Homo sapiens: one gene and its partners. The protein of the gene in region 4 interacts with the protein of the main gene of each other region in a biochemical or structural test. Each region holds a gene or a part of one and is shown on either strand. Other genes may lie near its edges. The genes, in order: PLAG1, SNAI2, SUMO3 and PIAS2.

Region 1 (7,860 bases), on a different chromosome or scaffold from region 4:
TATAGAGATTGAATTTATTGATATTAGTATCTGGTTTGTCAAAGTGGCAATTATTCAAGATCTAAGTCTCATTTATTTTAAATGCACAGCATAATTCTGACTACTTATAGTCAATGTAACTGTCTTGAGCCAAAATACAATGAAAACGTAAGATAAAATGAAAAGGCTTTGTAAGTCTTAATGGCATTCTGAAACCTCTGGACAGAAGATCATTGGGCATGGAGGAGTTTCCCTTCTCTATTGATAGCTTAATCCTTTTCCAATCAATTTTGATTTAACTGTGGGTGATGAGATTAATCTTTTAATGAGTTCTTAGAAAGTTGTAATTGCTTCCAAAATCAGAAACCACAAGATGATGTACTCAAACACGTTACTGATGTGATGTTGTATAGAGGTATTTACAGAAAGTTGGAAGAACTCAGTTGTAAACACAAGTTAACATACAATAGACTACAAAAATAATAACTTGTTTATACAGTAGGGCAAGAAAAAACATTCTATATAAGAAGTCTAAAAATTCAGCTCTAATTTTAATCCATGTCTATAAATAATAAAAACAAGAGGAAATAAGGATTTATTTCAGAAACTCCATATACCTGTGGAAAATGGAACACAAGTAATTTCTACTGAAGATTAACCTTAATCCCCATTATAGTACAGCTAACAATTTACACATTTTAAATTTTGAAAATATCGTGGAAATCTAAAACATAAGAGCCGATAGTAGTTTATGGTCAGTAAACACTTTCTGTTAAATAACACAAATAAATTCAACTTAGAAAATGAAAACTCACAGGGCTCAGGATTTTAAAAATCTTTTCATTTCAAAGGCGCAAAGTTACAACCCATGCATAGGATGGACTTTAAAAATGGATGTGTAAACTTTTCCATGGTGTTGGTGTGTGTGCTTTCCTTCCCCCTAAAGAAATGCCTACTGCTTACAATTTTAAAGAATCTTCACCACTCTGTAATTTTCAACCAGAAGTCCTCAATGTACCTTAAGCCAAATTGAATATTAAGGTATTTTACAGTTTTTACAAAATGGCTGTAAAATCACATTATGGGCATACACAGCTCTTTGATCTCACTGCACAGAATTCATAACTGTTCAATAATGCTATACCATTACACCACACACCTTAAACTATTTCCATTTTTCCACAATTCCTTCCAAAATCAGCTTCCAAAGCAAAGCAATGTAACATGAAAAGTTCCTGGGAGGGCTTGTTACACAAAGGAACAGTTTGGATACAAACTATACACATATCCATCTTCGGTTGAGGCTGTTTATCCCTCCTGTCCCTCCATCACTCCTATGGGTGGGTGCACTGGAGTAACAGAAAGGGAAGGCTCTTCCATCACCACACCCTCCCAGCACCTCTGCTTTTGGTCCTCAGACAGTGATTCTGTGTAGGTGATGAAAACCATAAGAAAAGAGAAGCTGTCCCTTTAAAATGCCCTGCTCTGTCCCATATCCCACGTGGAACCAACATCAGCAGCACTTTCCCATTAACATCAATGTGATGCAAGAGACATCATCCTTTTATACACATAAAACCAGAAAACCTCAGCTTAACATTCTTTAGGAAGGATGAACAGGTGAAGCAAACATGTCAGGAAGGGGGAAACCAAGCAACTCCACATCCCTCCCCAAAAGGTACTCCAGCCTTGCACTCCAGCCTCTCTGAGCACCATCACCTCTCTATCCCTCCTCTGCAGAGCCCAGTTTAAAGAAAGGAGGGAGCCACTAACAAAACCTGAAGCATAAATGCGACGAAAATGCAATCTAAAGCCGGAAAGGTTCATTCTTCCAATCACACATATTAACTCTATTAAGAAAATGGCATCACTTTTTTTTCCACCCAAAAAAACCCCGCAAAGATCATTAAAAGAGAGTTATAAAATAGCAAATATAGTGTTTATCTTATCTGAGATCAGTCCACATTACCAATAAGTTTAGCAGTTTCTGCACTACCACCTCCCCCCTCGCTCCCCCTGCTTCTCTTGCATCGGATTTTCACGTTTTCTCATTGTCGGTTGAGTTATAAAAGGCTTTTGCCCTTCGAAAGTTTTAAAAAATAAATAAATATTAACTCCTTGGTCCCTGCAAAGTCAAAATGGACTTCAGGGGAAAGGCGGTACATACTTTTACCTTTAGCGAGAAAAGGGGGAGCATCCCGGATTTTTAGGGATTTTTTGCGATTTTTTAAAAATTTTTATTTGGTTATATGCCTGAGTTCTCCCTCCATTTTGGTTGTTTATGATACTGACAACAAGCTGTCCCTGCTCTGTGCCGATCTCCTGCTTTCATTTAGCACCCCCTCCCCCTACCCCCCCTCGCAGCCACACACCCCGGGCTCACACCTCCCTGCAGACCCCGCACCCCGACCCCGGCTTGCCCACCTGAGGAAAGGGCAAAAACAAATTCATTTCTCCAGAAAAGAAAAACCTCTTTTGAAAAAGGGGCAAAGTTACCCCAAGTCACTCAAAGTGCCCCCCAAATATTGCCGACTGCGGGTTTCCGCCAGGCCCTTTGGGAAGCGACCTTCCCCCGGGATGTTTTGGTGGAAAATGCGGAGAGTTTACTCTCAAAACTGAATTTATATTAATTTTTCCCTTATTTTTCGGGTCTCTAATGTCTTCCGCTCTCGCTGCTGCCGCTGCCGCTGTCACAATATTCACAGCACCAGAGAGGAGGAGGAGGAGGAGGAGGAGGAAAACTTTTCAAACTTTCCAGACCCTGAATAAAGGTTTTTTTTTTTTTCCCACCGACCTCACCTTCGGGTCCCCAGCCGCATCGCCCCCTGCCCTGTCAGAAGCGACTTCGGGAGTCCTCGCAGCCCCGCGTAATTATTTTATTTTATTTTTTATTATTATTTTTCTCTCTGGGGTCCTGAGCAGGGGCTGAGAGTAGCACAAACTTTTCCTCCTCCTGCCGCCGCCGCTGCTCCTCTGCCCCCTCGGCTAGTCCCATAATTTAAATAACCCTGATATTTCTCCCGCTAAACGCCTCGCCGCCGCCCCGGACCCCCGGAGAACTCACCGCGGGGCTTTAACATCCTCCCTCCGGCCCGTCCGCCGCCTCTACACCGCCCGCGGAATTTCTAATAATTTTTTTCTCATATTTCGGGCTGGACGCGGCGGGCCTGGAAATTGTTTCCTTACGCCTCTTTCCAGCAGCCATTGTAGTGTATGCGCTGCCCCTGCAGCCCAACTTGCAGCTGCCGCCGCCGCCGCCGCCGCCGCCGCCGACGTCGCGCCCACCGCTGCCTCCCCCTGCCTGTTCGGCCACCGCCCCCGCCTCCCGTCGGCCCGCCCCCAAACCCCGCCCGCCGCTGCGCCCGCCCCCCGCGCGCGCTCCGCCCGAGAGCTGGCCACTCGGAGCCGCCGCTGGCGGGAGTTGGCCCGCCCATTGGGCCGCGACGCCGCCCGTCAAGCCGAAGTGTTAAGAGACGGGCCGCGGCTGGGGGGCGCGGTGGGGCGGGGGAAGAGGGGGCGGGGTCGCGCTCACCGCCCCGCCCACTCCTCCCGCCTCGGCCCTCCTTTCGCCAGGCGGGGGCGGGGCGAGGCCCGACCGCCCCTGCGGCCCAGGGCCCCGCGCGGCTGTCAGTCTGGCGGCGGCGCGCGCCGATTGGGCGGGCTGCCGCCGGGGAGCGGGGGCAGCAAGTTGGGATGCGCGCTACTTAAGGTCCTGCTGCGTGAGCCATTGACGTGTTTGGAGCTGGAGACGGCCTGGGTGCTGGCGAAGCGGAGGCCGGAGGTGAGTGGTTCCCCCGCCCTACCTCCGAAGCGGCCGCAGAAAAGCGGGGAGAGAGGGGTGCCCTTGGGCCGTAGCGGGGCCCGAATGCACTTCTGCGGCGCGGAGGCGCTCCCGCCAGGCTTCGCCGCAGCGCGGACCTCTTCCCGTTGCTCTTCCTCCCGCCACACGGGTCTGTTCGCTCCGGGGGCGAGGAAGATGACCTCTGCCTAGTCCGGGCAACCCCAGCTCTTCTTCCACTCTCCTGTGTAGCCTCTGAAGCGCAGTTACCGGCCCCACCCCCAGTTCCCTGCGTTTTCCTCGCCCCTTGTCTCTCTCGGCATGGTCTCGGCACAGCAAGGTGTGTTCACCTGTGCGCGCCGTCCAGGATCAGATGCTGACGGGCTACACCGCGGAAGGCGGCGAGGCCTCGGGTTCGCCCTTCGTTTCTCCTTGCCCTGCGCGCCCACCTCCGGCAGGCCACCCTTGACTTCTTGCCCCCTTCCACTTTGCACCTGGCAGTGGGTTAACGGCACGGCGTGTGCAGCTTCCGGGTTTAGCAGAGCCGCGGACCCTGCCTGGGCTCCGACCACGGGGCGTGTGGGCATGAACGTGTTCAGAAACGTTTCCTTCCCCCTGCCCTTTCAAAGCTACTTAGAGAGGGGGGACGTGAACCACTGGATGGGAAATCAGGAACTGCTTTATTAAGCAGTTTGCCCTTTGGAGTGGATTTTAGAGTTATCCCCTGAATGTGCTATGGTTTTGTGGCCCCTCCTTCATATCTTTGCTTGGTTTTTCTTTCTGGTTATGCTCTGCAAGTAGTAGAGCCTTGTAACATTTATTTAGTACATTCAAAAAGTAATAGACAAGGCCCCTTTAGCGGAGCACTCGATGTTGTAATTCAGCCCCGCTCCTCACTGTAAATTGACATTTCCTCTTCAATTCCAGTTAATACACGAGGAACTCATGCAAAGGAGGGGACTTTCGGAAATCCAAACTTAGAGTGCCTTGTATTTAGAATCCGGAAGGAAAAGGAAATGAAATGTGAAGAAACTCATGCACCAAACTCGAACTGGGTATATGTGATGTTACCTAGGTATTATTTTTGAAGAATTTCTGACTGACAATAAAATATAGAGTAGGATACTTTCATGTAAGGCACGAAACTTAAATTTAATGCAAGGTTGTCTGATCCTTGTTGAGATTATTAAATCTAAGGTGTATGAAGAGTTCTGTGTTCTCACATCATAGGATAGGTGTAAAAAAGAAAGCTGTGAATTTATTTACTATCATCATCTCTCTTAGGAAGAAGGGAAGTGTGGAAAAAAATTGTCTTCAGGAGAGGAAGAAGCTTGTAGATATAATTGAACAGCATCTTGATTTCTTTTTTGCCAAGATGTTACTGTTGGCTGGTTATTTTCTTGTATTGTTCAATGAAAATCATAAAATTATTATTCAGTGATTACTTAATGGACACCAGAATAACCAAACCCTTTTCCATTCTTTTTTTTGCAAAGGCTGGTCTCCTTTGGCCTGGACGTCCTGATCTTTCCCATAGTAGAACTGGGCTGGGTGTCTCTTTTTTTTTTTTTTGAGACGGCGTCTTCCACTGCTGTCGCTTGGGCTGGAGTGCAGTGGCGCGATCTCGGCTCACTGCAACCTCTGCTTCCCAAGTTCAGGCGATTCTCTTGCCTCAGCCTCCTGAGTAGTTGGGATTACAGGCGCGTGCCACCACGCTCAGCTAATTTTTGTATTTTTAGTAGACAGGGGGTTTCACCATGTTGGCCAGGCTGGTCTTGAACTCCTGACCTCGTGATCCGCCCGACTCGGCCTCCTAAACTTTTGCAAAGCTGTATCTCTAGGAATTGAATTGGAAGATTACTGAAGCACAGTAGCATTCCCTGACTTCCTGCAACGCAGGGAAATAGTTAAAAAGAAGATGCCACTGGAAGTAAAATTTCAACTCTTTTGTTTTTGAAACAGTATAGCTTTTCATAATGTCAACTAAGCAATAACTTGGCTTTTTGGTGTGTTGGCTACCCTACTATTGGCCATAAAATAGGCACTCTGGTACTTCAGTTGATGAATGTTTTTGCTAAAGTTGGACTGTACCGAATTTCATTCTTATTTTGTACGCTAATTGGTGTAAAATAAGGAAGTAATTGTTGGAATGCATACTGTATTCTTAGGTTTTATTAGTACATTTGGTTGCTTAAACTTAAGAATAAGAGTAAACAACAACTGAATTATAATTGAACTATCTTTCTTTTTCGTTTTTTTGAGACAGGGTCTCTCTCTGTCACCCAGGCTGGAGTGCACTGGTGCAATCACAGCTCTCTGCAGCCTTGACTTCCTGGGCTATCCCACCTTACTTAGCCTTCCAAGTAGCTGGGACCACAGGCACACGGCACGACACCAGGCTAATTTTTGTATTTTTGGTAGAAATGGGGTTTCTCTGTGTCGCCTAGGTTGATCTCGAACTGCTGAGCTTAAGCAGCCCTCTCGCTCCAGCCTCCCAAAGTGCTGGGATTACAGGCGTGAGACACCGCACCCAGCCAGTAGATGCATTTCAATCCAATATATGGCCTTTGTGTTGAGGCATGGCAATACAAAGGAAAAACACGTTCAAGTTTTTATTCACAAAGTACAGAGAATACATGAAGTTCCTCACTAAGTGATCATTATGCCAAAATCAAAATTTCAGGTACTTTTAGTGCTATTGAGATGTATTGATTTATTTTCTGTCAACTACTGTATAATTATTTTTTTTCTGTCTACCCTCAGTAAGAAGACTGTTAGAATGCCCTCGGTAACACAGAGGCTGAGAGATCCTGACATAAATCCTTGTTTGTCGGTAGGATGGTTTGCTTTAATTTTCATGAGTGTTAAGTTGGAAAAACAGGCTGCTCTAGTTTTGTGGGCCTTTGTTTTCTGCAGTTGTTGAATAAAGTTATTTCTCTAGAAAAAATATTGTTGGCCAGCATATCCTATTTAACTAGAGCATTTTTAGATGTTTATAATTTCTCTAACAAACATTCATCTTTTCTTTAGTTTTCCTTATTTGTATAATATGCAAGCATTTGGTTGTCACTGTAAAACTAGACAGGAAAATGTAACACTGAGAATATTTAGTCCAAACATGGAAAACTGGAAGGTATGATATTTTTAAACTGTCACTGACATTTATTGTTTCACTAGCAATAATATCACCATGTCCTTGACAACCTGGCTGAGAGTAATGGGCTGATAATATAATTAGCCTATTTAAAGCTTAAAGGTTTTCACAAAGGTATCTGATAAACAAAATGTTTTAAGAGTAAGCTTTTATTGGCATTTATTTGGTATGATTTGCGATACTTACTTGTGGCTTTGCTACGTTTGAATAATGTAGTTATCATACTGGTCCCATGAAAATTATACTCTTTAGTTATATGCATTTTCCAAATATATACATTCATTAAATATTTGGCACAGAAATTCAGCTTTGTTCTGTTTACGTAGAACATGTTTCTTAGATATGTGTTGCAAACTGTCTACCCATATAGCTAAAGCTTTCCTTTAGATCTGTGTTCCCCAACCTTTTGGGCACCAAGGACCGGTTTTGTGGAAGACAATTTTTCCACGGATGGGGAAGGGGGCGGGCGTCAAAAGGCATTAGATTCTCCTAAGGAGCTTGCAGCCTAGATCCCTCACATGCACGCAGTTCACAATAGGGTTCGTGATATTAGATCCCACAATAGGGATCTAATAGCATTAGATGAGAATCTAATGCTGCCACTGATGTGACAGGAAGGGGAGCTCAGGCGGTAAGGCTCACTTGCCCATTGCTCATCTCCTGCTATCTGGCCGGGTTCCTAACAGACCGAAGACCAGTACCACTTTGTGGCCTGGGGGTTGGGGACCCCTGCTTTAGGTGACCTCACAGAATCATACCTTTCACTTTTAAGTTTGTTATTCAATCTACTTCCAGTTCACACAGCTTAAATTTAATCCCCATGTGGCACCTACTTTCCTTTGAATTTATAGCTTGTGTTGTTGACTTCGGTTTTGAAGTAATATCTATTAAAATTGCTTATATAATAGTGTATTTGTATAATGGAGTAAATGGTAGCCAAAAATGCATT
Region 2 (7,474 bases), on a different chromosome or scaffold from region 4:
AGGTGGCAGACCTTGTTAAAAAGTTACGGAAAAGGAAAGAAAGACAAAGAAAATAATGAGTCTTCTGAAGCTGACCAATAGATGTCTCTTTGCAACCACATATCCCTGAGCTGTCGCTTAAAATACACACAAATTCAACACTCCCTAGTCTTTCTTTTTCATTTTACAGATAATATCATCAACACTTTCCACAAGGTACACACAGAACACTGAAGAGATGAATATCTCTTACTTTTCATGATGCACTTAACCATATTCTATCCACCCAAAGGGAAATGAGATCATACAAACATAACTAGGAATAAGATTCTGAACACAAGTGACTTGGCAGAAAGCAGATTTCATTAAAATGCTGTTCCCAAGTTAAGGGTTTTCTGTTTGGAGTGATCTTAAATATTTACTGATCATATGTGATGGTACTTATTGAGCTATTGGCATTAGCACTAACTCCAGACAGACGCAGATGCCTAGTGGCTATTGGCCTGCTGAACATGACACTGGGAACACGCAGGAAATAATGGAAACTCCTAAACAGCAGAGGGACATCCTGACACCATTTTTGGCTATTATTTTCCCAACATTCAGACATGTGAGTGCTCACACAAAGGTGTGTTCATGCTCATATTTGGCCCTGTTGACATCACCAAGCACATATACTTACATATGTGGAGTGCATAGGCGAGTGCCATCCATTCCCTTTGAGAAAAGAGGTTCTCCTTATTGTGGAGCTCAGAATATATAAGCAGAATCCCATGCCCGCTCTGACAATTTTCCAAAAGGAAATTTAGGAATATTTCTTCCTAAATCCTTTTACATACAGATATGTGTATGTTAAAAACCCACAAAATGGCATCACACCCTTGTCATTCAAACTTCAAAGTTATATTTAATAAATGCTTTGTTTCTATGTAAATAGATTTTTAAAATTACTAATGTATTATAATATTCTCCAGATAGCACAGCCAAACTCATGATATTTCATCACTTCATATTTTTCAAGGGATATGAATATGCATATGAATTGAGGAGATATGAACCCCCTCCAGAGTGATCATACCACACACCAAACTTAGAAAGAGATGCCTTTCATTTTAGGAGATAGGACACAGCATAAAATGGGATTTTTCAGCCTATGCCACACTCTGGTTTCTTCTGGTGCTAGATTTACTACTCCATTTCCTAAACATGGTAGTCAATACTTGCACTGCTTTTTACACACCTAAATACCTAAATGTGTACAAATCTCCACGCAAAGTAAAGAAACCCAAGGTGCGTTCCCAAACCTCACGGATCTAATTTATTCCCCTACTTGGCAGGGCAAGAATGTGTCTTTCATGAAGAAAACTGGCTCCGGGAGAAACCCCACCCATCCAGGGAGCCTGTGGGGAAGGCTGGCCCAGATCTTTAACTTACAAAGTTTTCCACAAGTTATCTTGGTCAGCTTCTTCAGAAAACAGAGAAAATGAGAGCCTGTCAGGTACGTCACATCAAATCACATCATGGCAATTAAGGAATTAGATTATACGGGTGTCTGGGGTGCCAGGCAACCCGCACAACCCATGCCATGGAGTCTCGCCAGTGTGGCTCAAGCCTAGGAAGGATTATTTTTTAAGCCTCACTATGGCCTCCAGAGTTCCTTTTTTCTCCCTACACTACATTAAACTCTCAAGAGCCTAAGAGCAGAGCTTGTGCCTTCCTTTTGTCTTACCCGTGCCCACTGGCTTCACCCTGGCTGGGCTGTGTCCACGTGGCTCTAAGAACAAGCACCATTTATTTAATTGTTATGAAATAAATTAGGCTGATAAACCCAATCAGCCTAATTATGGAGCACCAATTTCTCACCAACCTAGGACTGAATCCTTGGATTAGCAAACCCACTTGGGTTTGCTTGTTCCATTTTTCCCCCTCAGTCATTGATTTGACTTCTATTGGATTCCAGAATGAAAGCTTTAAAATCTGGTGCAGTTGCCTCCACAAAGATTTCTGTCCCTGGGCAAGAGAAAGTCTTTTTGTCAACGACCAAAGCCAACCCCTCCAGATGAGCCCTCTGGCTGGCAGAAGGAAAGGAAACCTCTGTCTTGTCTTAGCAGAGTCCCAGCAGCTGGCCTTTGGGTGTGGCCTTGACTTCCCGGCTTGCGTTTTTACCACATGGTGCTGGCGCCACATGCCCTCCGCTGTGTCTGAGCAGAGCACCTGTTTCGTCTGACTCACGCCATCAGCGCGCAGACTCGCCCTGCTCTGACAGCGGCCCAGACCTCACACGGGCATACGTGTTACTCGCTAGCACGCGGATCTGTGTAATGACATGCCCCATGCACAGACCCGAGCCCCATCCTCTCCTCACAGTAGGTGTGGCCGCACGTCCTGACGCCGATCTGTGCAGTGCACCCTCGGATACCTGCTGATGGGGCTGGGCTGGATTATGCCTCTGTGATCCAAATGTAAGCTTTTTTCATGCATAGTGAATTATTATTAAACGTTGTAAATGGATTTTTGAATACACATTTTAGTAGATGATCTTGTGTTATAACTACCAGCAAATAAATACCAAAACATTGTCTAACACTCTTCTTTGTTGTGAATAGACTGTGTAGAGTGAAACAAGGAAATAATAGCCATGGCGATATGTGTTTTCTCAACTGTGCTATATCTGTAACAAAAATGTGTGTTTTGTGGGAAATGGAGTGAAAAGCAAGGAGGACTCCTGCTCTCATAAACCCAGGTGCCTACATCCGAACAAACCCTCACATAGAGTAGCAAGCTTAGAAAACTGCCTCTGGCTTTTACTCCAGGTTCCAGTTTGTGTGTGGAGAAATCGAATATGTATTCATATTTTCCTCTCTCCTGCAAGTACAGTTCCATTAGCATAAGGATTCCTTTGAATTATTTTCTCTGTTTGACATTTAAATTAGTGACTGTTGGAAGAAATAAGAATAATCATTGAAATTAGCTTAGGAAATCTGTGAGTGCCCCACCTCACCCTCCAAACACACATACACTCTTGTTTTCTCATTCCAAGATTAAGAAGTTATGCAACCTGACAATGCACTTTTCTCTGACAAGTCTTGACATCACCACTGTTATTTTCTTTTTCACTTTTTTCCTCCAGCACCTGTTAGAAACAAGAGTAGGGTGATCTTCATGTGAATTTGTTCTTTCCTTATTCTTTTAGCAAAAGATAGGGATAAAAGTCTGCAATGGACAGAGATGCTTTAAAATATGCTTGAAATTTTATATTTAAAATAAACCACCTGAAAGTATTTTTAGATTGAAGACCATACACAAAATAAAGGTGTTTTTGCAGTTACTAGACTGGGTTCTTAAAACTTTAATCAATCTATATTCATAATAATATCCTTCAATTTCTTTTTTAGCATTATACAGGAAACTGGTAGATACTGAGATGGATTTTAATGGCTTTATACTGATGAAAATAGCACCACATAAAAGCAGGGGAATATTAGAAATAAAAATAATTGTCTCTAAAGACCCATACAACCCTTTTTCCCATAAAAAAAAAGATGCACTGTAATACATGAAAAGATAAGATCTCTTGTCAAAAGTGTGAGAGAATGTCCGGTGGTTCCAAATGACAGTTACCTCTTGCCCCCCTTCTCTGCCAGAGTTCCTTTTTATCTTTGCAATCTTCCAGTTCTTCCGATCAGCCTGCCTTTAGAGGGCTACAAAGCATTTCTTTCAAGCCACCATAGCTAACACGGTGACATGAGTACTTAATTTGCACGCGGCCGCGCTGCCCCTGGCTTCGCGGAAGCCCTGAGTAGCGCAGCGCCCTCGCCGCACGCAAGGCTGCAGTCCCGCTCCAGGCCAGAGTCCCAGGAGAGCGTCCTCCGCGCTCACAGGCGCCTTTGTCTTCCCGCTTCCCCCTTCCTTTTTCAAAAGCCAAGAGGTAATTATTTGGTCTTTGTGCAAGGCAAACCTCTCCAGATGCCACTTCCAAATATAGGCTCTCATTAACACCAGAGGCTGGCCTGGTGTGGTGCAGGGCGGCCCTTCCTTCTCCTGGCGGACACTGTGTCCCCGCGCGCTGGCGCTGCACCACATCTGGAAGCCAGGCGGGCAGGGCAGAGACCCCGGCTCCTGCGCCCCTCCTAGCTCCCAGAGAGCGTGGATCGCGGGCGGGGCTCACCGAGCGAGGTTACCTCTCTTGAAAATACTTAAACACTTTTTTTCCTCTCCACTGAAATCTCAAAAAACAGCCCATTTTGAACCAGAATAATTTAGTCTGACAACAGATTCTTCCTCTGTTCACAGCTGTCCCAGAGGGAGGAGCTGAAATCTGAACCTCTCAGCTGTGATTGGATCTTTCTTGCAAAAGAGAGGAAAAAAAAACCCTCCCAGCCAAAACGGGCTCAGTTCGTAAAGGAGCCGGGTGACTTCAGAGGCGCCGGCCCGTCCGTCTGCCGCACCTGAGCACGGCCCCTGCCCGAGCCTGGCCCGCCGCGATGCTGTAGGGACCGCCGTGTCCTCCCGCCGGACCGTTATCCGCGCCGGGCGCCCGCCAGACCCGCTGGCAAGATGCCGCGCTCCTTCCTGGTCAAGAAGCATTTCAACGCCTCCAAAAAGCCAAACTACAGCGAACTGGACACACATACAGGTAAAAAGAGAAAAATATATCTAGAACTACGTATCTAGAGCTTTGCAAATATGAATCTACGTATTACCCTTCAAATACCATTACAAAAGAGCCAAAGATTCAACTGTTTTCCTTTTTAACAGTGTCCTGAAAGGGAGCTTACATTCTTTTGATCATTTAGGGTTCGTTTTAATTCAAAACTTTTAAAATTCTTGACTAACAAGGAACATTTCATTCAAATCTCGCAGCTTCGTTTGCTAAAGCCTGTGTATACATGCATAATGAGTATGTGAAAGATGAGCAACATAAGGATTGAATTACTGCGTTTTTCATGCACTAAGTCTCCTTTCCTTTAGAAGGCGGCTTGATGCAGGCATATCTTTGTACTCACGGTCGTAATACACCTAAATAGCCCATACGTAACATGGAAAACAACTTTTCTGTATGTTTAAAAATAATGTTGAGGCTCTCCTTCCTCAATGGGGACGGCGAAGGCACTGGCTTGGCTGCACTGTCTGACTTCAGAGCACCTATAGCTCCGTGCAGCTGTCAGCCTATGTGTGCATTAAGTACAGTAACTCCGTAGGTGCCAGGGTGGAAATGAAACATTTTACCAGTGTGTATGCCCTCCTAAATGGGTCTATCTTCTTCCTAAGAAAATCACGTGTGTGTTGCTAAATATCTTTCCAGTGTGTGTATACTTGCGTGTGGATTTATTTTTAATTATTTTTGCCTTAATCTTCTCTCCCTCCCTTTTCTTTCCCAGTGATTATTTCCCCGTATCTCTATGAGAGTTACTCCATGCCTGTCATACCACAACCAGAGATCCTCAGCTCAGGAGCATACAGCCCCATCACTGTGTGGACTACCGCTGCTCCATTCCACGCCCAGCTACCCAATGGCCTCTCTCCTCTTTCCGGATACTCCTCATCTTTGGGGCGAGTGAGTCCCCCTCCTCCATCTGACACCTCCTCCAAGGACCACAGTGGCTCAGAAAGCCCCATTAGTGATGAAGAGGAAAGACTACAGTCCAAGCTTTCAGACCCCCATGCCATTGAAGCTGAAAAGTTTCAGTGCAATTTATGCAATAAGACCTATTCAACTTTTTCTGGGCTGGCCAAACATAAGCAGCTGCACTGCGATGCCCAGTCTAGAAAATCTTTCAGCTGTAAATACTGTGACAAGGAATATGTGAGCCTGGGCGCCCTGAAGATGCATATTCGGACCCACACATTACCTTGTGTTTGCAAGATCTGCGGCAAGGCGTTTTCCAGACCCTGGTTGCTTCAAGGACACATTAGAACTCACACGGGTAAGAGAAAAACCATAGGCAGGAATGTTACTCTGAGATACAATGAAGCCCTGGGCTGGCTGTTGGATTTGCATGAAGTTGTGACATAGTGCTTTTAATGATGGACAGTCATTGATAGCTACTTCCTGACTACTCAAAAAGTTGTTAGGGCACAAAGTGCTCCATTTCTTGCTAACAACCTCTGCTCCAGGGACTGCAAACAGCATGTAGACTTTGGAAAGTAGATTCAGAAGGTTTGGTCTCAAAGATCAGTTAGAAAATCAGGAAAGATGTGCTTGAATGTGTGTTCTGTGAAACTGCCCCCAGTAATCAGCAAATACAAATGTTGCTATCTTAATCAATTGATTTGGTTAATAGATGAAGGCTTTTCCTACAGTTTTCTGTTAGTTACATTCTTGCTCTGATATTTGTCACCCGTGGGTGACTTGGATAGTTGAAACTAAATTTACTTTGCCTCTCTTGCTTTGTTTGGGGATTTTTTGCTCCTTAATTTCTTATTCGTATCACAGAATTATTCTGCAGGGTATCATGGCACTTAGACCACCTTAATCATAGTACAGAAAGAGGGAAAAGGGGAAATATTGGGAAATGTTGGGAGGTGCTCAACATTAGCTGCATCTGCTAAAGCAGAAAGCTTTAAGAAGTGAAAGTCCAAGAACTACGTAAATTATTTCTGTATGATTGGCAGCAGTAATAATATTCGTGTATGATTTTTAAATGCAATATTCAAGTTTATCTTAAAAATTCAGGTATTTTTAAAAGTGTCTATTATGAGGGATTTTAATCAGGTTTTGCTGCTTCTCATTATTTAAGCAAAATGTGATTGACTTTTGTTAACATGATTTTACTTTATGTTTCCTCTAAAAACACTGACTGTCTTTCTTTTTTTCTCCCACTCCACCCCCAGGGGAGAAGCCTTTTTCTTGCCCTCACTGCAACAGAGCATTTGCAGACAGGTCAAATCTGAGGGCTCATCTGCAGACCCATTCTGATGTAAAGAAATACCAGTGCAAAAACTGCTCCAAAACCTTCTCCAGAATGTCTCTCCTGCACAAACATGAGGAATCTGGCTGCTGTGTAGCACACTGAGTGACGCAATCAATGTTTACTCGAACAGAATGCATTTCTTCACTCCGAAGCCAAATGACAAATAAAGTCCAAAGGCATTTTCTCCTGTGCTGACCAACCAAATAATATGTATAGACACACACACATATGCACACACACACACACACACCCACAGAGAGAGAGCTGCAAGAGCATGGAATTCATGTGTTTAAAGATAATCCTTTCCATGTGAAGTTTAAAATTACTATATATTTGCTGATGGCTAGATTGAGAGAATAAAAGACAGTAACCTTTCTCTTCAAAGATAAAATGAAAAGCACATTGCATCTTTTCTTCCTAAAAAAATGCAAAGATTTACATTGCTGCCAAATCATTTCAACTGAAAAGAACAGTATTGCTTTGTAATAGAGTCTGTAATAGGATTTCCCATAGGAAGAGATCTGCCAGACGCGAACTCAGGTGCCTTAAAAAGTATTCCAAGTTTACTCCATTACATGTCG
Region 3 (7,487 bases), on a different chromosome or scaffold from region 4:
CTGCCGCCAAGCCACTGGCATCCCGGGAGTGGGCAGGGGTGTCTGGCCCAAGACTGGAGTCGGGGGGTGAGTGCCGCCCCAGGACACGCACCTTCAGGCTCGCAGCTGGAGCCCCTCACTGCCAAGGCCCCTTGCAGGCCACTCTAGCTCCCTTGACAGAGCACCATGCCTCCCCAGGGTCTCCCCAGGGTGCATACCCCAGGGAAGCAAGCATGGGTGCAGTCCCTGGGTTCACCCTCAGGCGAGCCTTCTACATCCCACTCCCTGTATTTAGGCATCGCTGGGACAGTTGTCCCTCTCCCAGCCAGGGAAGGAAAGGAGAAGTGGAGAGAACAGGCGTGTGATGTACAGTGCTTCCTGAGGGCAGCAGCTCAGCATGGGGTGAAAGGGTACCAGGACGCCCCAGACTTGACTTTCAGAGTGAGCCGGAGGGCCCTGCCTCATTGCTTCACTCACAAACGACTTTATCCCAGCAGTGCAGGCCGGCAGAGGGGTGCCCCACTTTTCGGCTCAGACTGAGCTGCCCCGAAGTTGGCTCCCAGTCTCTTGACATCAGCTTTTTGCCTCAACTCAAAATGCATTTTCAGGCAACAAGACACCCCGATTGTGCCATTGTTGAGTAGCTTCAAGTATGGCATGAATTAAAAAATAAAATAGTACCACCTACTGCCGCTCAGATAGGACAGTTTGAAACCAGAAAGTACTCGGAGGTGGCTTCCCTCACATTTGCTGATGTCAGGGCAGCGAGAAGGAGCCTGGCCGCCTGCTGTGGGGAGTGGCCGTCCTCAGTTGGATTCCCGAAATCACCACTTGAATGTCCCATAGGGTTCCTCTGAGTCACAAATGTTTTCTTCTGTTTTTGGTTTCTTTTACTAGTGCTGTATAGCTGCATGACTTTTGGATATGTGTTTTTACTGGTTTCATAAGAATTTTTTAAAAAAGAGATGGGGTCTTGCTCTGTTGCCCAGACTGGTCTCAAACTCCTGGGCTTACGCCATCCTCCCACGTCAACTCCCAAAGTACTGGGATAACAGGTGTGAGCCACTGTGCCCAGCCCACAAGAATAACTTTAAAATAAAGATGGATTTTCTCTTATTTTTCCCTAGACTTTGTTTTTTTCTTTGAATTAACAATGTCAGAGGACCCTAGGCTTGCATTGTTTTACACATGGATGCTTAACAAGTGGAAGTTAAAAATAAATTCTGTGTAAAAATAAAACCATCACGAGTGACTCTGAATTGCTGGAGAATTTTAAGAATTAGGTTGGTTTTGATGACTTTAAAAAGCCAACAATTACCTAAAGACTTGCCCATTCAAGTCGCGGTTATTTTGAGACACAGTTTTGAGGCCAGTCTCTGGTGTCTTCTGCAGGAGGGTGTGAAGACAGAGAATGACCACATCAACCTGAAGGTGGCCGGGCAGGACGGCTCCGTGGTGCAGTTCAAGATCAAGAGGCACACGCCGCTGAGCAAGCTGATGAAGGCCTACTGCGAGAGGCAGGTGCGGCACCTTGCTCCCCCGCAGAGCCTCCCCGTGTGCGCACTGGTCCTGTGCGTTCCAGGCATCCCCAGAGCACGAGCGTCTCGGGGCTGGACCCAGATGCAGCTGCCCGAGGTGCCCTCTTCGTGGATGGGCAGGCGGGGGCTTGTGCTGTAAAATTAGTCCAGGCTGGGCTTGTCCCCCATGGCCTTTTATAAGGTGGAGGGACCTAGAGGCTCGGAGAAGTGTGGTGGGTTTTTCTTCCTGACAGGGCGGCTGCCCGGGGTGCTGTGTTCTCCATGGGGTACTAACATCTGTGAAGTCTGTGATGCTGAAGGCTCTTGGGGGCCCTGCTCAGGTCTGGCCATTCTGGGGCTGCAGGTGGCGTGTGCCCCACGCCGCTGTCACCCTGTCCTCGCGTATGAGCTGGCCTGACCCTGGAGAGACACTGCCCTCATGTGCGGTGTGGTTTTCCATTTTGTTAGGAAAGGCAAGAAAGCGCGTGATTCTTTCCCCTTCTTCCCCAGTTTCAGGATAATGAGCTGCCCCACTGGCAGTGCCCAGCTGGGTGGATGCCTTCTGGCTGCTGTTTGTGACGTGGTGTGTGTGTGTCTGTTGTTCTTGGTAACGCTGTGGCGGACTCACCCTGGGCCAGGGGGTCCCTCTCTAGGCCACTTTTATGGGCTTTGCCCACCAGCTGCTGCCTGGTGTGTTGGGGGCCCGGCCCTGCAGCCAGGCGCCCTTCCCCAGGGAGCCCTGCTTGCCTGAGTGGGACCTAGAGGCTGCTTTTCTTCAGCCGCTTTGAAAATACAGCAACTCGTTGCCCTTTTATTTTACTCTTTTGCCTGTGGATTTTCAGTTAGATTTCCTCCTCTTTCCCTCCCACTTTGGATACCCTGCTCATAGGGGCAGTCACTGGCGACTGCCTTGCATTCTTTATTGGCAAGCAGCCCCTGACTTCCTTTCTTTGTGTTTGCTGAGGGCAGATCTTATTTTCACCTGCGAAAGGTGAGACTGAGCTTCCAGACACGCAGGTCCCGGTCTTCCCAGCAGAGTGAGTGGCCTGGCGCCGTGTAGGCCCCGTGATCCAGCCTCTGCCTGATGCTGGGCCCTGGCCCTTGCTGGAGTTTGTACTGCCTGGGCTCGTGGCCACTGTGTGTGTGACTTCCCGGGTGCCCATGTTCTCCTCTGCGCTGCGGGATGGCAGGCGTGTGGGGCCGTGTACATGTGGGGGGGGCTCTGCCCTTCCCCCTGCTCTCCCGGAGCTCCCCTCCTGCCCCACCTGCACTGCTGCTTGTGAGGCTGGCTGCTCAGCCGTGGTCCAGGGCCTCCTGTTCAAATCCTTCTAGAAACTTGGGTTCTCTCTTGGGTGTTTCCTGGATTAGTCCTCCTCCCTTTTGTGTTTTGTGGTGGAGCACATCCTCCAGGGTCTTGTCAGAACGGGCACAGAAGGGCAGCGTCTTTGAGACACTGCATGGCTGAACGTGACTTTTGCTTTTATAAACCTTCACACTTCAGTATGTGGCTGCACGTAATATTCTCGGTTGAAACTTTTTTTTCTTTTTTATTTCAGAGGTCAGCCATGAGAATAGCTCCCAATGTTAAAAGTGAAAAGTTCACCAGGCATGGTGGCTTATGCCTGTAATCCCAGCACTTTGGGAGGCTGATGTGGGAGGATCACTTGAGGTCAGGAATTCAAGACTTGAGGTCAGGAGTTCAGTGCCAAGCCTGGGCAACACAGGGAGACCCTGTCTCTACGAAACATTAAAAAAATTAGCCAGGTGTGGTGGTGCAAGCCTATAGTCCCAGCTACTCAGGAGGCTGAGGTGGGAGGATTGTTTGAGCCCAGGAGGTGGAGGCTGCAGGGAGCTGAGGTCATATCACTGCTCCAGCCTGGGTGACAGAGCAAGACCCTGTCTCAAAAAAAAAAAAAAAAAAAAAAAGGTGAGAAGTTCAGTGGATTCTGATTCTCTGTGCTTTGTTTGTAACTTGGTTTTTCCCTGGAAGTATCTGGGACCATATTCTGGCATTCAGTGTTTCCTTATGTGCCTCAGAGGTGGGTGATTTTCTCACTCATGCTGCTGGGCACTTTATGGGTCTGGACGTTTATTTTTATTCAGGAAATATGCCTTATGTTAGTTCTCTGATAATTTGTATCCTTCTCCAGACTCTGTTCCCTCTTTTTGGAGTTCCTGTTCCTCCTGCTGCTCATTGTCCTAGATATTTTAAATTTGATAATTTTTCTCCCATTTTGCTTTGGGCTTTATTGTTGCATTTGGGCTTCTTTCCGGGAGGTCATTTCAACTTTATCTTTCCACTTCCTGTGGACATTCTCATCTCTGTCATGATTTTTAATTTCCAAAAGTTCTTTTTTCTTTCTGTTCTTTGAGTGTTCTTTTTTTCTCAGTAGCAACTTATTTTTTTTGAGACAGGGTCTCACTCTGTCCCCCAAGCTGGAGCGCAGTGGTGTGATCATGGTTCACTGCAGCCTTGAGCCCTGGGGCTCAAGTGATCCTCCCACCTCAGCCTCCCGAGTAGGTGGGACTCCAGGTACACGCCACCACGCCTGGCTCATTTTTTTATTTTGTGGAGATGGGGTCTCCTTATGTGGTCCAGGCTGGTCTGGAATTCCTGGGCTTAAGTGATCCTTCTGCCTCGGTCTCCCAAAGTGCTGGGATTACAGGTGTGAGCCACCGCACCCATCCTCAGTAGCAATTGATTGTTTTCTGAAGGTAGTAGTATTTTTTACTTCCCATAGAATTTGAATCGTGAGTGTAGGTGTGTGTGGTGTGTATGTCCGTGTCTTTGTGCATGTGTGTGTATGTGTGGGTGTGTGCCTGTGTGTGTATGTGTGGGTGTGTGCCTGTGTGTATATGTGGGTGTGTGCATGTGTGTGTATGTGGGTGTGTGCATGTGTGCATTCGTGTGTGTGTATGTGTGGGTGTGTGCGTGTGTGTATGTGGGTGTGTGCGTGTGTGCATATGTGGGTGTGTGCATGTGTGGGTGTGTGCATGGGTGTGTGCATGGGTGTGCATGTGTGGGTGTGTGCATGTGTGTGGGTGTGGGCATGTGTGGGTGTGGGCATGTGTGTGCCTGTGTTGGGAGTGTTCTCCTGCCTCCTTCCTGTCCGTTCTCCTCTGCGCTCCTCCCCTCCTCTCTAGGCTGCTGCACAGTGAGCCTTTCCCTGACTGCTCTCACGCAGGCTGACTTCTGTGCAAGCATGGAGCACCGAGAAGCTGCTGAAAAGCTGTGTACATGGATGGCTGTGCTGCCAGGGCTGTGCATCCACATGGGGTGATCTGTCTGGATTGCAGGTTCTGGAGGCGCCCAGATGCTACAGTTTGAGAGTTGAGTCCTCCAGGCTCCGGCCAGCCTCCTGGAGGCGCATCTGGAGGGGAGAGGGGACTTGGCGCACAGTGTTGAGGGCACGCGCTTTCGTGGGCCTGTTTCCGCCCTGCGCCTGGAGCTCCGCACCCACCTTCTCAGAAAGCACATCTCATGTGTGCTGCCGTGGGAGGCACAGGGTTGTGGGGGTCCTGCCTGAGGGGTCTGCATGTGAACTTCCAGGCAGCTGTTCAGAATCAGCTGCCTGCCACAGCTCTGCCTCACAGGTTGGGGCGTGCCCAGTCCCTCCGCCCTAGGATCCTGGTCCAGTGTCCATCAGACCACCAGTGTCCACGCCTCAGTAGCCTCTGGCTCAGCCCAGCATTGACATATCTGCCCATCCCCACTCCCGTTTTCTTTGTCCTTCCTGTTTGTGCCTTTTTCATTTACTTCATTTCAGTGGGGTTTCAGGAGGGAGCAGAGATGCACGTTTTAACCCCGTCTGTCCTGTTTCAGTTAAATCAAAACTGCTCGTTGAGGAAATGTTTCTGCCCCTGACCACATTTCTCCATTCCCTCAGGACGCAGAAAGGCTGCGTGCTCTCCTTCCTGCTGCCCTCCTCAAGGCCAAAGTCATGGTGGTAACTGCTCCCCGGCCTCATGCAGCCTTCTTATCTGTCCCTCATTGGCACACAACCTGTTCCTTGCTGAGAACTTTGTAAAGGGGGGAAGTAGTGGTGCCAGCATTGTAGAAGTTCTACTCGGCTTCTGGAAAGATGGGAGGGATGACCCAGGACAGGTCAGGGCACCAGGACAGAGAAGATTCAGTGTTTGAATTGACCATTCCACACGGCCACTGCACTGAGAAACTTTGATTGAAAAGCTAGCCACTGGAAGGTTAGTATTCACCTGGCGGCTCATTTCCCCTCCCCTGGCACATCACCAATGCTAGTCCAGCTTTTCTCCTGCTCCTCAGAGACCTCCTGGCTGACAGCTGTCTGAGCTAGCGTCACTGTGACGTGTTACGCTTCCTCACCTGGGTTTCGTATGTAAAGAAAGGGTGGATTTTAGAGGTACATGAGTTTGGATGTTAGTCTAGGACGTCTCTTGTGTTCTGGTGTTTGAATGTAAGTCGGCTTTCCTTCTGCCATGGACCACTTACCTATCTGCTTTGAAACTGAACTGCCACTGGTTTGGCTTTAAGAAGTTCCCAGTATGCAATGGTGTAACAAAACCTGGGTTGAAAATGAGCCGTTTTAGCTCATCAGAGAGAAGATGGTAGAAGAGTGGGTTCTGAAAGCAGTGGTGTCAGGCACCGCGTGAAAGAGATTGTAGGCCCACTGGTGAGTTTTTAATACTGAGCTGGATCATAAATCTGCATATCAGAATGCTGATACTTGGATTAAAATATTTGGTTTTTGAATTAAGCCGTATCTGGAAATGTTTAATGGCCACTGCTTTTCCTCTCCAGGGCTTGTCAGTGAGACTAATGGCCACTGCTTTTCCTTTCCAGGGCTTGCCAGTGAGACTAATGGCCACTGCTTTTCCTTTCCAGGGCTTGTCAATGAGGCAGATCAGATTCAGGTTCGACGGGCAGCCAATCAATGAAACTGACACTCCAGCACAGGTACGGAGCTGGCTTCGCGTGGTTCCAGGGCGACTTCCGATTTGTGCGGGGTAACTGCCATTTGGGATACGCTTATTTGAGAATTGTAGGTGGGAGCTCATACAGAATGCCTTAATGATATTGATTATTAGATTATTTATTTTTCACATTTTAAATTTAAATTTTCAAATGAGAAAACTGCTTTGCAGACATCATTCTTGCTGTTTGGAGATGGAGCCAAGTGCTGGGCCCGTCCTCACTGTAAGGGAAGCGGGGGTGCAAGGACCACTCAGCGGCCCCTTCCCACTCATTGTCTGGACGCTTGCTGTTGTAGCCCGTGTGCAGCTTAGGGGCCAGCTGGATTCTTGTGCCCTTTAAGCATCTTGCACAAGTGACGTGGGTGGGCAGAATGTGCCATAACCCCTGATTATCAGTCTGCACAGCTCGTTTCTCTCAGGCACATGCAGACATGAATGAGATTTCATCTATCACGTTGCAGGGCATCATACTGTCATGGAAAGAGCTTTGGACCTGGAAACAGACTTTTTTTTTTGAGACGGAGTCTCGCTTTGTTGCCCAGGCTAGAATGCAGTGGCGCAGTCTCAGCTCACTGTGCAAGCTCTGCCTCCTGAGTTCACGCCATTCTCCTGCCTCAGCCTCCCAAGTAGCTGGGACTATAGGTGCCCACCACCACTCCCGGCTAATTTTTTTGTATTTTTAGTAGAGACGGGGTTTCACCATGTTAGCCAGGATGGTCTCGATCTCCTGACCTTGTGATCTGCCCACCTCAGCCCCCCAAAGTGCTGGGATTAAAGGCATGAGCCAACGCGCCCGGCCGAAACAGAGTTTTTTTTTAAACTTGGTTCAAGTTGCAGCTCTTGTCATTTGTCAGCTGATGGCCCCGTGACCAAGCATCACTTCATCTTGTGGAGTCTCAGTTTTGTCTGTCCATAAATGGAACCAATACCTGCTTTTTCTCCCTTTCAATGTTGTGAGAATCCACTGGAATGTTTTATGTGGAAATATTTTTGCAAAACATTTAAGATTTTAAATATTTACTATTCAGTATTTAATAAATA
Region 4 (7,941 bases):
CTTGTTCAGTTTCCTTGATACTAGTTTTGGTAAAGTCTAAGACTAAGACAGTATTGGCAAAGTGTGTAGGAGTTAGGAAATGTGATATAAATAGATATATGCTTAGCAAAAGAAGTAAAGTGGCTTGGAAAACATCTGGGAGGCCTGAGCACTGTTATAGGGAGAGAGGAAGTAATCAGTGGGAAGGAAAAGAGAGATATTAAAATCAGTAAAGTCTAATGGGTTCAGAGACAGATGTGAAAGGATTAAGAAGACAGGTGCTTGGAACTAAACTCAAGGTTACATGGTTGGTCCAACCAGGTTGGAATGCTCTTTGCTAAAATTACTAGGATATATCATATGGTTCTTAATTATGTTTCTTAATGAAGTGCTTTTTTTTTTTTGTTATGTGTTTATCAGCTGTTTAGATTCAAAATCAGCTTAGCTGTTTAGATACAAAAAATTTACCATCTTTCACTTTATAAATTTACAGAGTACACTCATACACCTGATCTATCAGATCAGGTATCTCATCCTGAGATAGGTGTAGTCATTTTTCTTTTCCAGATTAGAAAAATTAAGTTGAGACTTTGCTAAAGTTACACAGCTAGTAAATGGAAAAGCTACTCCTGAGATTTTTGACTTCGTGTATTAAAATCTTATGACACTTTATGCCAGGCGCAGTAGCTCATGCCTGTAATCCCAGCACTTTGGGAGGCCAAGGCAGGTGGATCACGAGGTCAGGAGTTCAAGACTAGCCTGACCAAGACGGTGAAACCCCATCTCTACTAAAAGTACAAAAATTAGCTGGGCATGGTGGCGGGTGCCTGTAATCCCAGCTACTTGGGAGGCTGAGGCAGAGAATTGCTTAAATTCGGGGGGGCAGAGGTTGCAGTGAGCCGAGATCGTGCCACTGCACTCCAGACTGGGCAACAGAGCGAGACTCCGTCCCAAAAAGCAAAAACAGAAACAAAAAACAAACAAACAAAAAAACTTAGGACACTTTAATCACAGTACTTATAATGAATCTTCTAATTTGGAGCCATTTTAAGACGGTAGCCTAGTCAGGTAATTGCCTGGAGATTCAATCCATAAAGAGCACTAAAACATTTTACCATTGGAAATGTAATAAAGAAAAAGGATATATTTAATAGAATTCCTCTGGTAGAAGAGTTCAGCATGTGGCTGGCACTGGTACTTTGATATGTGGCCTTTTGTGAGTGATAAGATTACTGCACCTCCCTCCTTCTCCACTCCCCTTTAAGGGTATACCACATTACTATGTTATAAGGAAGTTGGATTCAAGTAAGTGCAGGGATTTCTTTTTAATGAGGATATATAAATCTAGACCAGAGCAGAAATGATCACAACAGTGAAGAGAAACATGCCCTTTCTACCCTTTACCACTCAGCCATTCCTTTGAACATATATTGAATGATTATTGGGGAGTATAGATTAGAAAAAATGCCAAATTAATAATCTGGTCTGGTGAGACAAAGTAGCACCCTATTTCAGAATTCTTTCTATTGCAACTAATAGAAATCTCAACTCAAACAATCTAAAACCTTACAAGAAAGGCATTGGCTCAAGAAAACTGGCCAGTACAGAGGCAGAGTGAGTATCAAAGTCAATGCTGAGATTTTGTGTGTGTGTGATTTTTCTGCTCACAAGAAGGGTTGGTTCTCAGGTTGGCTCTTCACTGTAGCAAAATGGCGAGTGTTCCACATGCCAGAAAGTCTTATCTCTAATCACTGAATAAATGTCCTAGGCTTCCCTCTGATTAGCCTACCTTAGGGCACGGGTCCACACTTGATCTACTTGGCAAAGCCTATAAATGCTCAGTACTAATCAGATTTATATGCCCAGTTGTGATCTAATACTGTGGCCAGAATGACATAACAGTCCTTAATGACTCAGGCCAGTCTAGGGCAGCACCTAGAACTCTTTGCAGTCAAACCTACCCAACCCATCCAGGAGCTGCTACACATTGAGGAAGGGGCAGAATGAATGCTGGGAAGCAACTACAAAGAACACTGCACGTAAGTTTCAGTGGGGCTTTGCTTTTCTTTTCTTACTGTTTTGTGTTTATGTTGGTCCTCTTTATGGGTGTAAGCTCCTCTGTGGCAGGGCTGTATTGTACTCTATTCGTCTATTCCCCGAAAACTCCTCCCACAGTGGCATTCACTTAAAGCCTACTAAACAATGTTAAATTCTACTGAGGTGTAAATCAAGGTCTACGGAGAATAAATCAAGAGTAAGAATAAGCCAAGCGAAGATCACAAAGTTAATGGTGGAGAGACAGATTTAGAACCTGGACATTGTTCATTCATTCCTTTATTCATTAAACAAATACAAGGCCAACTATTTGTTAGGCATTTATCAGCCATTATAGTCTAGTGGGTTTACAATTTTTTAACATAAAATTTTAAAATAATAATTTTTATTTTTTGAGACAAAGTCTCACTCTGTTGCCCAGGCTGGAGTGCAATGGTGCGATCGCAGCTCACTGCAACCTCCACCTCCTGGGTTCAAGCAATTTTCCTGTCTCAGCCTCACGAGTAGCTGGGATTACAGGCATGTGCCACCACACCCGGCTAATTTTTTTTTTTTTGAGATGGAGTTTCGCTTTTGTTGCCCAGGCTGGAGTGCAATGGCGCTATCTCCGCTCCCTGGAACCTCCGCCTCCAGGGTTCAAGCGATTCTCCTGCCTTAGTCTCCGGAGTAGCTGGGATTACAGGAATGCGCCACCACGCCTGGCTAATTTTGCATTTTTGGTGGAGACGGGGTTTCTCCATGTTGGTCAGGCTGGCCTCCAACTCCCAACCTCAGGTGATCCGCCCGCCTCTGCCTCCCAAAGTGCTGGAATTTAGAGCGTGGGCCACAGCTCCTGGCCTAATTTTTGTATTTTTAGTAGAGACAGGGTTTCACCATGTTGGCCTGGCTGGTCTGCAACTCCCGACCTCAAGTGATCCACCTGCCTCGGCTTCCTAAAGTGCTGGGATTACAGGCATGAGCCACTGCACCTGGCCAAAACAATATGTGTGTGTGTTGTGTATATATACACAACACACACACACACACACACACACATATATATATATACACGCACACACATATATATCAAATAAACAATTACACAAATACCTACATAATTACCATGGAGACATCTCAGGAAGAAAAAGTTCAGGGTCCTAGGAGAGGTCATAACAGGGGAATTTGAATTAAAATGTGGGATGTGGGTGAGGGATGGTCTTCCTGAGGAAGTGACACTTAAAGTGAAACCTGAAGGATGAACAGGAGTTAGGAACAAAGAAGAGAGTGGGAAATTATTCTTGGTTCAAGGATCAACATTTAGAAGCCTTAAAACTTGAGGGGAGGCCGGGTGCAGTGGCTCACGCCTGTAATCTCAGTACTTTGGGAGGCCGAGGCGGGCGGATCACCTGAGGTCCGGAGTTGGAGACCAGCCTGACCAACTTGGAGAAACCTCGTTTCTACCAAAAATACAATCGCAGCTACTCGGGAGGCGGAGGTAGGAGAATCGCTTGAACCCGGGAGGCAGACATTGCGGTGAGCCGAGATCGTGCCATTGCACTCCAGCCTGGGCAACAAGAGCAAAACTCCGTCTCAAAAAAACAAAACTTGCGGGGTGCGGGGGCAGGGGAGTGGAAGGAAGACCTGGAAGTGCAGTGCGGATGAAACGAGGGGTAGTGGGAAGAGGCGGTAGGTAGGAGGCTGATTAAACAGGGCCTTAAAAGTTACATTGTTTTAAAGACCTCTCGTGTGTGGGTTCCACCCAATTCTTCAAGGAAATTGAACCCTGGACACCGTCCAGCGATTTTTCTGGCCATCTTGACTCAGCATCTTCCTTCATCCTATATCAGCACATTACGGGGGGGCCATCAAGCTTCCTTCTATCTACTTACTCTGCCTTGGCGTTTGACTCCTTCCTAGCTATCAGATTTCCCCGACTTTTTAGCATGGCCCTTCTGAGCGCTCTTATTTCACTTCTCCCCGCCCCCAACCCCACCGCCTAACTCTCCCAACTCTGCAGTCCGTGACCTTCAGGTGCCCTTCAAGGTCAGAAAAACTCGGCAAGGTTGGTACTTGCAGGACATTAGCAATTCAAAGAGGTGTCACACAACCTCACCATTAGATGGGAACAATAGCTTACCCAACACCCATATTTAGATTATTCCGCCACAACTACTCTGGGGGATGGTTTTATTTGCGGCGGCTTTCTCCGTCCATAGGCACCGCGTGAAGGGCACCGTAAGAATCTTCCCGAATGCTCCTGTCACGCGTCCCGGCCGCCTCTTCTTCCTCCCCGCCACTTCCCGAGGCCAGGCCCGCGGATAACGCCTCAGTTGCGACCCAGCTCTAGGCAGTCCGCAGGGGCCTCCGCCGGGGAGGGAAGGCACGACCTGGGGCCGAGCGGGGCCAAGCCGCGGGGCAGCACGCCGGGGCAGGCGCGGGCGGGCGCTGTCGCCGCGCGGACTGAAGGCGCGGGCGGAAGGCGGTCGCGCGGGTGGGCAGGGGGCACCGCTAGGGGCGGGGCTTCGGCGCGTCGGAGGCGGAGCTCCCGCGCCGTTCACGTGACGGGCCCGGCTGTAGCGGCGGCGGCCGCGGCGTCTTAAGCGGCGCCCAGTGCAGGATGGTGCTGGAGGCGGCGGCGGCCGTGGTGGCGGCAGCGTCGTTGGCGGCAGCGGGAGTGGGTGCGGCGGCAGCGGCGGCGGCGCCCGCGGGTGGTATAAAATGGCGGATTTCGAAGAGTTGAGGGTAAGCGGGAGTGGAGAGCGGAGGCCGCGGGGGAGGGGATGGGAGAGGAGGTGGGGAAACCGCAACGTCGCCGGCCGCCGCCTGCTCGTGCCTCTGGGGCCGGTTGGCGGAGCCCTGAGCCCCGGCCCGCGGACGAACGGGCGCCGAGGGCGCGGGGGAGGGGAGCGGGCCGGCGGAGGGCACGCGGGCGGCGCGGGGGCGGCGGGCCTGGGCCGCGGCGAGCCGGCTCCTGAGTGCTGCCAGTGGTCCGCACACCTGGCGCGGGGGGTCGGGGCGCCCTCCAGGAGGGGCACATGGGGACCCGACATCCCGGTTCGCAGTGAGGGCCGATGTGGGAAGCAACGTTTGATCTTGCACCTTCACCGGGGTGTACGTGTCTGTGGCTATTCACAAGTCTGCATGCTACTCACTTGGTGGAGGACTGTTTTCTGAAAGCTGAAGTTGCGTTTAGGAATCTCTCCTCTTCTTATGGCTGATGCTACCGTTTAGTCAGGTCTGTCACGAGAAAAGGCCCCTTCTCCCACCCTTGCCTCCTAACATCTTCGAGGAACCTAATGTTTGGGGATCCCTGCCTTCAATAATCGGCCTTAAACCTCGATATTTTCTTAGTGTTTTAGTAAGAAATCTGCAAAGTCTATGTTGTGAGGTTTGTGCACCCCTTTTACTCTTGAGGAAAAATATTTTTTTCTTCTCAGTCTTAAAACAAGATCATAACTTTATTGTTGATACCCTTGTATAGCAGAGGTCTGGAATAGGGCTGTGATGGGGGTAGAACAGAAGAGACTTTTTCCCCCCAGACTGATAACCTTTAAAGTCCTAACTAAGTGTGACGAATGAGATGGATTTGTGTGTATCGCTGAATTACTGGCGACATAAATGAGATGTTTACGGACAGAAACCCTGATTTTTTTTTTTTTTAAATGTATCAAGGTAGAGATGAGTGTAAACTTGAAATTACATTTACTGCAACTCGTTTGTGTAACACTTATGATATTAGGATTTCTTTTTCAAATAAGGAAGAGGAATCCGGTAAAAGGTTCAGTTTTGTATATTTATTGTTTTCCGCAAGAGATGGGATGGGGGAAGGATGTTGGCTGGTTACCTGCTTAGTGGACGTGAGCAAAAGAACGTATCCTCTGCTCTAAACGGAGATTGTTGGAGTTTGCACAGTGCCTGCCATATTCCCTCCTGCTGTTTCAAAAATAATTATTAAGTTCCCAGTAAACACATATTAATACATGTTATGCCCCATACTAGTTTATGCAGAGAACCATAAGTGTAGGTAAAGGGTGTTCATACTTGATAAGTTTAAGGGTTTTAGTGGCTCAGAGCCCCAGCTGTAGAGCTTTTAACACCTGTGGAGCTTTTCAAACAACGAACCCTGAACCTCACCTCTGTAAATTCATGCGTTAGATTTAGGATGGGTTGAGAAGACTGAACTCTGAAGTTATATTTATTTTTACCTGCCATTTTTAATTTTTGTGTAGTAACAGATGTATACAAGTTTTCTAAGTTCTTTTTTTTTTTTTTGTTAATGAAAACTTTCCAGGATTTTTATTAGACTCTTGTGAATGTTGTTGGCCAAAGCTTAATGTAAAGCGAAGAATTTACTCGCTCTTATAGAGCAGAGTAAAAGCAGTCAGTGCTCAGATTGGAGTGCAACCAGCAACTGGAAAGTGATAGAAACCAAAGAAGCTTTTTTTTCTCTTCCTTTCTGCCTTCCTCTCTGTTTTGGTTTGTGGATCAGCTTCATCCTCTTTTCCTGTAAATCAGCTGTCTTTACTTCTTGCATTTTTAGAAGATGGCCCCTCTCCCACAATTCATATGACGTGCCCAACAGAGACTAACTGGGGAGAATTTTCAGAGGAGTGAGGGGTGCAGGCTGGGCACATGCAGTAAGCATCATCTGCTTTTCTTTGCCTTAACTGCTCTGTGCAGACCCATGTTACCCTACACTTGAAGATGAACTGTACCCCGCCCTTACATCCCATTACAGACAGTAATGATGATGATGGTATATACCCATTTTAATATAGTGGTTATTCCATGCCTGGTTCTGGTCTAAGCATTTTTTCTATACTTATTTAATTCTCACAATTTTTTCAAGAAATTGAAGCACAGAGAGGTTAACCTGACCTAAATCACACAGCTTGAGATTTGAAAAGCTAAGATTTTTAATCTTAGACATGTAGCTTTTAGAGTCTGGGCTTTTCAGAGCCCGGGCTACACTACTTTGTTCTGGTACCTTGGGGTCTAGGTGGAGCTTCTAGCCATCATCCTGCGATTGCTCCTAAATTAAATGATTGGTAACATCCTTCTTGTGTGACATTATAATAAAGGAAGAAAAACAGACTAAAAAACGGAATAGAAAGAAAGAAAAGGGGAAGAAATAATCTTGGATTCTCAAAATGATGGTCCTTGGATCAGAATATATTGTGGTGGTCAGAGTGATGCTCAAGTAAATTATAGGACCAGGAAAAATTTTGGGCATTAGTTTGTTGGCTAACTTCTTGGCAGTAGAGAAATTGGTCAGCCGATCTGGATGCCACATATTTGGCTGCTGATATGCCACAGAGAGGATTTCCATTACCCTTCAAGGCTACTCATTTTGGACAAGTATAACCAGAGCAGTTCATATCCTGGCTAGTGCTGCATCTATACTGGAGATAGGGAATTTTGGGAAAGGTAATCCTCAGTGTGGTTTGGTGACCCTGGTGCCTTTGCTTTTCAGACTTGTGTGTCGGGGGTGGAGTTGGGGGGGGGAGGGTTGGTTATTCGATTAGGCAACTGTTAAGGGGGTCGCCTGACTATTTCAGTTTTGGAGACTGCTGCGTGAGCCAGTACCAGAGATCTTGGCTGGTCATAGCAGAATATGGCAGCTCTATACCTTGTTGCCTTTCAGTCCGGGTGACCAGAATACCAGCCCACCTCTCTTCCAGTTCTTCTGGGAGAGAGAATCTGATTGGCTGAGTTTAGGTCTCTACTTCTGTTCTAATCATCCATAGCCGGGGGCTTAGAGTCAAAGCACACAAACCTGATCAGCAGATTATCCTGATGGATTGAAGGAAAGGAAGTGGGGAAGTTCTCTGAAAAGGGAAAATGTGGCCTGTGTGCTCAAAGATGGTTACAATAATGTGTTATATATTAGAAGCTTTCAAGGTGCCAGAGAAGAAATTACTCAATTTA

Evidence for each region.
Region 1: the proteins of PIAS2 (region 4) and PLAG1 form a complex in vitro, tested with the Homo sapiens proteins (one study listed by BioGRID).
Region 2: the proteins of PIAS2 (region 4) and SNAI2 form a complex in vitro, tested with the Homo sapiens proteins (one study listed by BioGRID).
Region 3: the proteins of PIAS2 (region 4) and SUMO3 form a complex in vitro, tested with the Homo sapiens proteins (2 studies listed by BioGRID, with this or other methods).

Annotation. Positions count from the first base shown.
Region 1 is NC_000008.11:56,208,078-56,215,937, forward strand, and holds the start of PLAG1 (zinc finger protein PLAG1), read right to left. Parts: upstream 3,197-7,860; 5' UTR 3,044-3,196; intron 1-3,043. Other genes in the region: CHCHD7 (coiled-coil-helix-coiled-coil-helix domain-containing protein 7), read left to right, coding at 4,774-4,832, 6,521-6,590. UniProt on the Homo sapiens protein: Transcription factor whose activation results in up-regulation of target genes, such as IGFII, leading to uncontrolled cell proliferation: when overexpressed in cultured cells, higher proliferation rate and transformation are observed.
Region 2 is NC_000008.11:48,918,328-48,925,801, reverse strand, and holds the start of SNAI2 (zinc finger protein SNAI2), read left to right. Parts: upstream 1-4,372; 5' UTR 4,373-4,536; coding exon 4,537-4,615; intron 4,616-5,360; coding exon 5,361-5,906; intron 5,907-6,813; coding exon 6,814-6,995; 3' UTR 6,996-7,474. UniProt on the Homo sapiens protein: Transcriptional repressor that modulates both activator-dependent and basal transcription. Involved in the generation and migration of neural crest cells.
Region 3 is NC_000021.9:44,807,989-44,815,475, reverse strand, and holds part of SUMO3 (small ubiquitin-related modifier 3 isoform 1 precursor), read left to right. Parts: intron 1-1,371; coding exon 1,372-1,500; coding exon of another isoform or gene 1,501-1,614; intron 1,615-6,357; coding exon 6,358-6,429; intron 6,430-7,487. UniProt on the Homo sapiens protein: Ubiquitin-like protein which can be covalently attached to target lysines either as a monomer or as a lysine-linked polymer. Does not seem to be involved in protein degradation and may function as an antagonist of ubiquitin in the degradation process.
Region 4 is NC_000018.10:46,914,136-46,922,076, reverse strand, and holds the start of PIAS2 (E3 SUMO-protein ligase PIAS2), read left to right. Parts: upstream 1-4,569; 5' UTR 4,570-4,731; coding exon 4,732-4,755; intron 4,756-7,941. UniProt on the Homo sapiens protein: Functions as an E3-type small ubiquitin-like modifier (SUMO) ligase, stabilizing the interaction between UBE2I and the substrate, and as a SUMO-tethering factor.